2 linked regions of the Homo sapiens genome follow. The protein of the gene in region 1 purifies or fractionates together with the protein of each later gene. This does not show direct contact. Each region holds a gene or a part of one and is shown on either strand. Other genes may lie near its edges.

Region 1 (5,580 bases):
TTGCATTTTTTGAAGGCTAAAAATATAGTCATTAAACTATGTCTTTTCTAGGTCACAAATGCCTGTAACATTAATTAAGTAATAACCATGTGTCAGGTGCTGAGCTAGGTATTTTAGAGGGATTTTATTATTTCATCCTCACTAGCAAGTGACAAAGCCAGGATTTCAACCCAGTAATCTGATGCCAGAACTCCTAATCATCATGTTACCTGCCTACCCATTAATAAAACGTGAGTTTAAAAACCTCATGGTCAATTTCCTGTGCTCAGAATAACCAACAATATTTCTTAACCTTCCACTAATTTTTTATAACATGAAATACTAGCCATGTTTTGACAAGACATTTTCCAGATGAAAAACCTCATAGCTACATATTCTATGAAATAGTTACAGCATATTAAATCTAAATCACAGTTCAAATCTAAATTATTAAATAATTAAATTCCAGTCCTGGGTGTATTTAAGTATCTGTTGTACTTACTTACACAGAACATATGCTATGCATACAGTAATAACAACAAATACTTATTGATTAGCTATTTAGTTACAGCAGATAAAGAATCAAATTATAAAATACAAAGGTTTTCTGTAGTCCAAATATTTATTTTGTCAGCAACTATAAGCTTTCTCTAGAAGTTGAAAAAGCCTATCTGGATTATGGGAAATTCAAATATTTGTTTTCTTGCTGAGATTTTAAGGCAAATAAGGTAGAGGCAAGAAGATGACTTTAAAGTATTAAAACAACAACAAAGATGACCAACAGTATAATGGGTAGCTACCCTACCATATTCTCTTTAACCATATCCCCTTGCTGCCTTCTACAAAAGAAAGGCTTCCTCCAACTATAAAGATGCCTAATCTTTCATCACTTGCCATTATTTAAAATCACTTAAGATTTATATTAAGTTAAAAAACTTTTACATTGAGATCACATATTTTCAGTGGGCCTTTCCAGTCATTTAATGAAGAAATTATTTTAAACATAAAAATATGCTTGAAACAGCTCATTACAGAATCCACATCACTATAATCTTATGCTTGGCCTCAGGAATGTTATACAATGGTTTGAGTTCAAAGTAAAGAAAACTGAATTAAAACATGTAGTAGATTTTGTGGGGTTTTGTGTGTGTGTGTGCATGTGTGTGTTTTTAAAGGTACAATTGCTTAACCAGATATTCCTGTTTCTCTGACTGGAATATAAATAAAACCAGAACACAATCCAGAAAAGCTTGCTTTACCACAAGCAGATCAAATCGGTATTGGGCTACAAGGAACACAGAACAAGAATCTCTTAATACATGTTCTATTTTAGATAATAAAGTGTATACTGTATTGTCTTCTCATGAAATTTTGCTCTAACAACATCTCCACTTTTAGAAAATGCCATATTCCCTTATCTGATTTATTGCTTCTCTGGGAGATGCTGTTCTGTGGAGTTAGAATTATTAAAAAATAACAATAACAAAAAAACAAACAACCTTGTTTGCTGGAAATAAAAAGTGAAAAAAAAACCTCATTTCTTTAGTTTATTAGTAAATAACTGCTAAAAGGGCAAGGAGCAGATGAGTGCTATATGAATAAAAGATTTTTAATTATACATCAATTCTATCATTCCCTCAACAATACATTTCATAATTTAAAAGGTTTACAGTGAATACGTGGGTCATTAACTTGGAATATTCTAAAAACAACCCAATAGTAAAGATAATTACATGGCCAGTAATATTCCAGCTGAATGAAACACTCTTAATGGAAACCAACACTTGTTATGTATTTAAATTAGATTTAAAATTAAATTAATTTCCAGCTACCTAGAAAATCTTTTTAAAAAGTCAGTAATTCAAATGGAAACTTTACATTAATTTAAAAAGTAATACCATCAATTTGGATCTAGTTCATCCTTATTGTTAACAAGCACTGAGGGAGAAAAATGGGTCATCAGCTAAAAGCCTGAACAATCCCAAAATGGGTGACTGAACTGTAAATAATTAAGATATATATTTTCTAAGCAAACCTAAACACATATTTTATAAAGCACATATATTCATTCCTCTTAGTTCAGTTTCTACTACTGCACTGTCTTGTAAACAGAAAAGACTTAAATTATGTGTAATATATCAAACCTTTACACTCTAATGTATTGCATCATATACAAAATGATTATTATATCTTACCAACTCATTAAAGCTAATGTCCCATAGTACTTTATTTATCAATACTTTCTATTTAGATTTAATTGCATTACTTGATAGCAATGAATCTACACAGTTTCAATTTTCTGTGTATACTTTTCAATGATTTTGATTGTCCTCCAATTTAGAAATCACTGACACTCTGTTGAATGACATCAAGTATGGATGACTTCTATAAGATGTCAACTTAAGAAACCTTTACTAGCACCAAAAACTTGAGATGGGAATCTGTGACGATACACACACCAAACCTCCAAGGATTTCTCTAATATAGTGATGAAGAGTTAAAACAGGGAAGGGCAAACCTATCAGACCTATTAAACATGAAACAACAATTTGACTTTCGGGGAGACACGACATCTAACTGAAAGCACAAAGAATAGAGCTAAATGTAGGCAGTTATGTGCAAGGCACACAATCTGGATCCCACATTTGGCAAATGAGGTATGTATCAAAGATTTAATTCATCAATTCATTAGGTAGGACTCTACCCTACAGAGAAAATTGGACAAATATGCAAAGATGTATAAGTATGATAATGACCATATTTGATAATAAAATAATAATAGTAAAATAGGAAATGACCTAAATGTTCTTTAATAAAAAACTGGTACAATATTTTACACAAATAATCGAATATTACATATATGTAAGTTTTCATTGACATAGAATGAGCTCCATAATATACTGCTGAGGGGAAAAAGCAGATTAAAAACAACATGAATATTATAGTTACAGGCATGGAGAGAGACAGCTGCAAAAATTATCACCAAAAGCAAATGGAGGTTTCCTCTGGGTGGTTGGGGAGGAAAGTAATTTTTACTTTCTTCCTTAGAATTACTAATATTGCTTTAATTTTCTAAATAAATATACATTATCTTCGTGATCAGAAAAAAATTATCTTCATGTTGGAAAAAGAAAGCACATTTATTTTTTAATACCATAATTCTTTTTGGGAGTAATTACTCTGTGAACCTAATTAGAAAAATTCAAGAAGCTATAGATTCAAAGATTTTATCACAGCAGTGTTTATTATCACAAAATACTGGCAATAATCTAAATGATCAATAGTGAATTTGTTAAATAAGTTATAAAGTATATAATGGCATACTACAAAGTCATTAATATTAAGATAAAGATACAGTCATCACTGTAAGTTCAGTGACCTTGGGAATGTTACATACCCTCTAGGTGTCAGTTTCCTCATCTGTAAAATGGGTATAAAAAGAGCACTTACCTCACAGTGCTTTACCTAGCATATCAGCTTTATCTTATTGTGATACAAGACGAAAAATCTGATGTTTGTGAGCTTTCTTGATAACACAGGCCGCTGCTGCAAAAATTACCTTGCTATCTGCTTCTAAAAATTTCAAGAGGAACATTCAATTTGGCCATCAATCAAGTTCAGAAAATATGAATATAAGACCACAAGGGCAATAAATATCAAAGTTGAAAATAGGAAATTTCTGCAGCTATTAACCTAGTTTTTAAAAATTCCTATACTGGCTGGGCTCGGTGGCACACACCTGTAGTCCCAGCCACTTGGGAGGCTGAAGCAGGAAGATCGTTTAGGCCCAAGCATTAGAGGACAGCCTGGGCAAGAGAGTGAGAACCTGTCTTTTTTAAAAACAATAAACAAACCGCCTATATACAATCACAAAATAAGCTTGTTTATTCATCTACACATGTGCAAAAAATAGTGCTAGAAGATAAAACCAGGGCTACCTAGACACCTGTGGCACTGGACAGTCCCCATTAAGAAGCTGCCCAGATTACAGTGACTGATAGAAGTGGTATCCCTACTTAATTGAACAACAAAACAATTTACATATACACACTAGTTTGCTTCATCTGTTTTACTATCATTGTACAAACATTTATTTTGTTGCTTTAAGTAACTGAAACCAACCTGCCATGGTCTTTCCCAATCCAGTGGAATAGGAAGTGCTCCAAGCCATGCTCCTACAAAGCTAGAAATTGTAGTGATCTGGAGACTATTCTCCCATATGGATGTAACTCTGTGAAACACAAATTGGTACATCGTTGGTGGTATATACATGAGCTGCTGGAGAATCCAACAAGCACTAGCACACATTATCAGTATACATATATTTCCTGCTAATTTAAAATGAAAATCTCAAAATGACATATACATATTTACCATGAACTATTAATAGTTAATTGGTAAGAAGATGTAAATGTTTTCCATTGGAAAGGTAATATACAGACGCACTAGGAGTCAAACCATGTTAAAGAGCATTTGTAGAAACAGCTAAGTCTTCCACCCCTATCATCAACTCCTGGTTCCTTTCCCCACAGGCAACTGCTATTATGCTAAATTATTACATATTCTTCCAGAAATATTTTATACAGGCACAAATACACACATAATTTTGTTTTGAAGGATATATGTACATTTGCATAAATACACATGTACATATGTATATTTCTTCAAAACAAAACTCAGATGCATCATGTTATAAACCAAGTTTTGCTTGTTTTTCCTTGTTAACAGCTGTAACAGTATTCCATTGTATGGATGGTGCATCATTTATTCAACCAGTCTTTCTTTTTTTTTTTTTTTTTCAGACGGAGTCTCACTCTGTGTCCAGGCTGGAGTGCAATGGAGCGATCTCGGCTCACTGCAACCTCAGCCTCCCGGGTTCAAGCGATTCTCCTGCCTCAGACTCCTGAGTAGCTGGGATTACAGGTGTGTGCCACCATGCCCAGCTAATTTTTGTACTTTTAGTAGAGATGGGGTTTCACTGTGTTGGCCAGGCTGGTCTCGAACTCCTAACCTTGTGATCCACCCACCTTGGCCTCCCAAAGTGTTGGGATTATAGGCATGAGCCACTGCACCCGGCCTCAACTAGTCTTTCTTACAGCACACTTCATTTATATAAACCAATTCAATTTACTTGGCAAGAAACAGGCAGAGAACAAGAACAAAGTATTTCAAAAGATCTGGTGATTCTGCCTACCGTTCCTATTTACTAAGTGCACATCTGAGAGTGTAAAGGTGGAAAGACTTAATTCTGCCATTCTCTTAGTAGGTGTTAGTTTCAGCCTGGCCCTCATAGGGTGAACACTTCATCATGTAGAACAGGAGTCTGGTTACAGTCAGGTAAAAGCCCACTGCAATGCACTAAGTGGGGTCCAAATATTCAATTGTTTAAATTGCAAGGTGAAGTTATTGAAAAGTAGCCTCTTCTAGATAGTATGGGGGAAAACATTTGTTTTGTTAGATGATTTATTTAACTAGAAACAGGCCAATTATTACACGCAAAATGTACACTGAATTTTAAAAGTCCCAAATGATGACAAGTCAGTTCACAAACCAATCCCTCTATCATCCTCCATCTCATACTCCCCAACTACACAAGATAAG
Region 2 (3,500 bases), on another chromosome or scaffold:
TTTATAAGGACAATTCTCACATTTATATTCTTAGCCAGAACCTCAACCCTGAACTCTGGAAGGTATCAGCCAAAGATGTAAAGGTGACCCTTGAACAACATGGGCATTACAGGTTCCAACCCCTAAACAGTCAAAAATCCACATAGAAGTTTTGATTATCCTAAAACTTTACTAACAGCCTACTGTTGAGTAGAAGCCTTACTGATAACATAAACAATTAACACATATTTTGTCTATGTATTATATACTGTATCTGTACAATACAGCAATATAGAGAAAAAATATATCAGGAAAATCATAAAGAGGAGAAAAAATATTTACTATTTATTAAGTGGAAGTAGATCATCATAAAGGTCTTCATCCTTATCGTCTTCACAGTGAGAAGGCTGACGGGGAACACGAAGAGGAGTTGGTCTTACTGTCTCAGAGGTGGAAGAGGGGGAGGAAGTAGAGGAGGAGGCAGGAGAGGCAGGCATACTTGGTGTGACCTTATAAAAACACATCATAATTTCCGTCTGACTCTTTTCCTTTTTAATTTCTCTAAAAATGTTTCTATACAGTACCAATCCTTCTTCCACCATTTCCTTTAGTTTCAGTGCTCATAACATAGAAGGGTCTATGTTGTAAAATAAGTCAAAAGCAGTCTTGAATAATCAGAACCCTTCTGCCAGATTGCCTAAAGTCAATTTGTTTTCTGGCACTACTTCTTCTACATCTTCTTCCTTATCACTTGGCAGTAGTTAGGAAGAACTCATTTCTATCAAATTGTCTTCTGCTAACTCTTCGGTTTAGTGTCTATTAGCGTTCCTTTTTTTTTTTTTTGGAGACAGAGTTTTGCTTTGTTGGCCAGCCTGGAATGTGCAGCGGCACAATCTCGGCTCACTGCAACCTCCACCTCCTGAGAGAAGGTGGAGTGTGGGATTACAGGCGTATGCCAACATACCCAGCCAATTTTTTATGTTTTTGGTAGAGACCGGGGTCTCATCATGTTGGCCAGGCTGATCTCAAACTCCTGACCTCAAGTGATCCATCTGCCTGGGCCTCCCAAAGTGCTGGGATTACAGGTGTGAGCCACCGCGCCCAGCCATGTCTGCTACCTCTTGAATGTCTCCAAGGTCTATATCTTGAAATTACTTCGCTCCCTTATCTTTTTTGCCATACCCACAATCTCCTTCATGATTTCCTTGACTGGCTCTGCTGTCAATCTTAAGTCATGCACAACGTCTGGACACAGTTTTCTCCAGCAGGAATTTGTTTCGGGCTCGATGGCCTTCAGAGCTTTTTCTATAACAATGATGGCATCTTCAATGGTATAATCCTTCCAGACTTTTAGGATGTTCTCTCTACTGGGGTTCTCTTCCATAGCAATGACAATCCTTTCCATAGATTAGTTTATGTAATGAGCCCGTAAAGGCCTGTATGAACTCCTCATCTAGAGGTTGAATTCGAGACATTGTGTTTGGGGGCAAGTATACCAGTTTGACACCTTCAGTATTGAACTTATGGTGTTCTGGGTGGCCAGGGGCATTGCCCAACATTAAAAGAATTTTAAAGGCAGTCCCTTACTAGCAAGATACTTTCTGACTTCAGGCACAAAGCATCAGTGAAACCAATCCAGAAAAGAAGGTTCTCATTGTCTAGGTCTTTTTGTTATACAACTAAGAGACTGGAGTTTATCTTTTCCCTTCAAGGCCCGGGGGTTAGTAGCTTTATAAATAATGGCAGTTCTGATCACAAATCTGATTGTATTTGCACCAAACATTAGAGTTAGCCTTCCTGCCTTAAATCTTAGTGCTCACTTTCCTTCCTTACTAATAAATGTTCTTTGTGGCATTTTTCCCCCCACAGAATAGGGCACTTTAGTCTACATTAAAAACCTGTTCACCAGCCTGGCCAACATGGCAAAACCCCGTCTCTACTAAAAATATAAAAATTAGCTGTGTGTGGTGGTGTATGCCTGTAATCCCAGCTACTCGGGAGGCTGAGGTAGAAAAATCGCTTGAACCCAGGAGGCGGAGGTTGCAGTGAGCTAAGATCGCGCCACTGCACTCCAGCCGGTGAGACAGCTAGACTCCATCTCAAAAAAACAAAACAAACAAACAAACAAAAAACCTGTTCAGGCAGATGTCCTTTCTCCTCAATGATTTTCGTAATGGTGTCTGGGAATCTGCTGTCTCTTGGTCAGCAGAAGCTGATTCTATTGCCATCTTGACCCTTTCTCTTTCTTTTTTTTTTTTTTTTTGAGATGGAGTTTCGCTCTTGATCCCCAGGCTGGAGTGCAATGGCATAATCTTGGCTCACTGCAACCTCCACCTCCCGGGTTCAAGTGATTCTCCTGCTTCAGCCTCCTGAGTAGCTGGGATTACAGGTGCCTGCCACTGTGCCTGGCTAATTTTTTGCATTTTTAGTAGAGACAGGGTTTCAACACGTTGGGCATGCTCTGACCTCAGGTGATCCACCCACCTCGGCCTCCCAAAATGCTGGGATTACAGGTGTGAGCCATCACACCCGGCCATCTTGACATTTTCGAAGCCAAATCTCTTTCTGATATTATCAAACTATCCTCTGCTGGTATTAAACTTTCCAGCTTTAGATCCTTCACCTACCTTTCACTTTAAGTTGTCAGATAATGACTTCACTTTTTCTGGAACCACATTAGAGTCTATAGCTATGCCTTTCTATTGCAATCCTATACCCACATAAAAGCTGCGTTTTCAATACAAGATAAAGTTATTTCACAAAAAGTGCAAGGTTTTCATGCCTGCTGGCATAGCTGCAGTAACAGTGTCTCAAATTTCCTTTTCACAGTGGTCCTTACACTGGATTCATTTATCTTGAAATTGTGAGCAACCGCAACTGCAGACCTCAATCTACAGTACATTATCAGGCAATTCAACTTTTCTCTCTTAATGTCATGACTTTTGTCTGCTTCTTAGGAGTATGTCCAGCATCACTAGTGGCACTTCATATGATTCCCATGGTGTTATTCAAAGTTTACGGCATTGGACTAAACATGATGAAAAATATATGAGAATCACCAGAGATGTCTTTTTACTGGGATAGGCAATTTACTGGAGAGACAAACTGCTCATGAGCATCATACAGTGTTTTAAGCAGATACAACCTCATACAGTGTTTTAAGCAGATACAACACTTAAGCTTACCGAAATAGCAACAGGAGGTGGCTATGAAATTATTACAGTAATACAGTATATACTACAGTTAATTTTATGTAGTGACGATTTAACACTGCATCTTTATGTTTGTTTACATTTCTCTTGACTGCGGATGGTCTGGAAATGTTTGAGTGTGTAAATTTTAGTACATTTCAACTTTTTATAATAGATTTGTGTATATTTTATGGTAGTAAATGATAAAATACGCTAGTATCTACATAGATTTTATGCACTCATGACATACTTTTTCTTAATTTTTCCATATTTCTAGGCTACATGGTTCGTCTGCTAGTTTTTTCAAATTGTTAGAAACTGCCAAAAATT

The links. The genes of interacting proteins can lie anywhere in the genome.
Region 2: the proteins of PIGF (region 1) and WDHD1 purify together in Homo sapiens (affinity purification with mass spectrometry; one large-scale study listed by BioGRID and IntAct). This does not show direct contact.

Annotation. Positions count from the first base shown.
Region 1 is NC_000002.12:46,588,374-46,593,953, forward strand, and holds part of PIGF (GPI ethanolamine phosphate transferase, stabilizing subunit), read right to left. Parts: exon of another isoform or gene 4,985-5,580; intron 4,211-4,984; coding exon 4,102-4,210; intron 3,553-4,101; coding exon of another isoform or gene 3,535-3,552; exon of another isoform or gene 2,774-3,534; intron 1-2,773.
Region 2 is NC_000014.9:55,020,600-55,024,099, forward strand, and holds part of WDHD1 (WD repeat and HMG-box DNA-binding protein 1), read right to left. Parts: intron 1-3,500. UniProt on the Homo sapiens protein: Core replisome component that acts as a replication initiation factor. Binds directly to the CMG complex and functions as a hub to recruit additional proteins to the replication fork.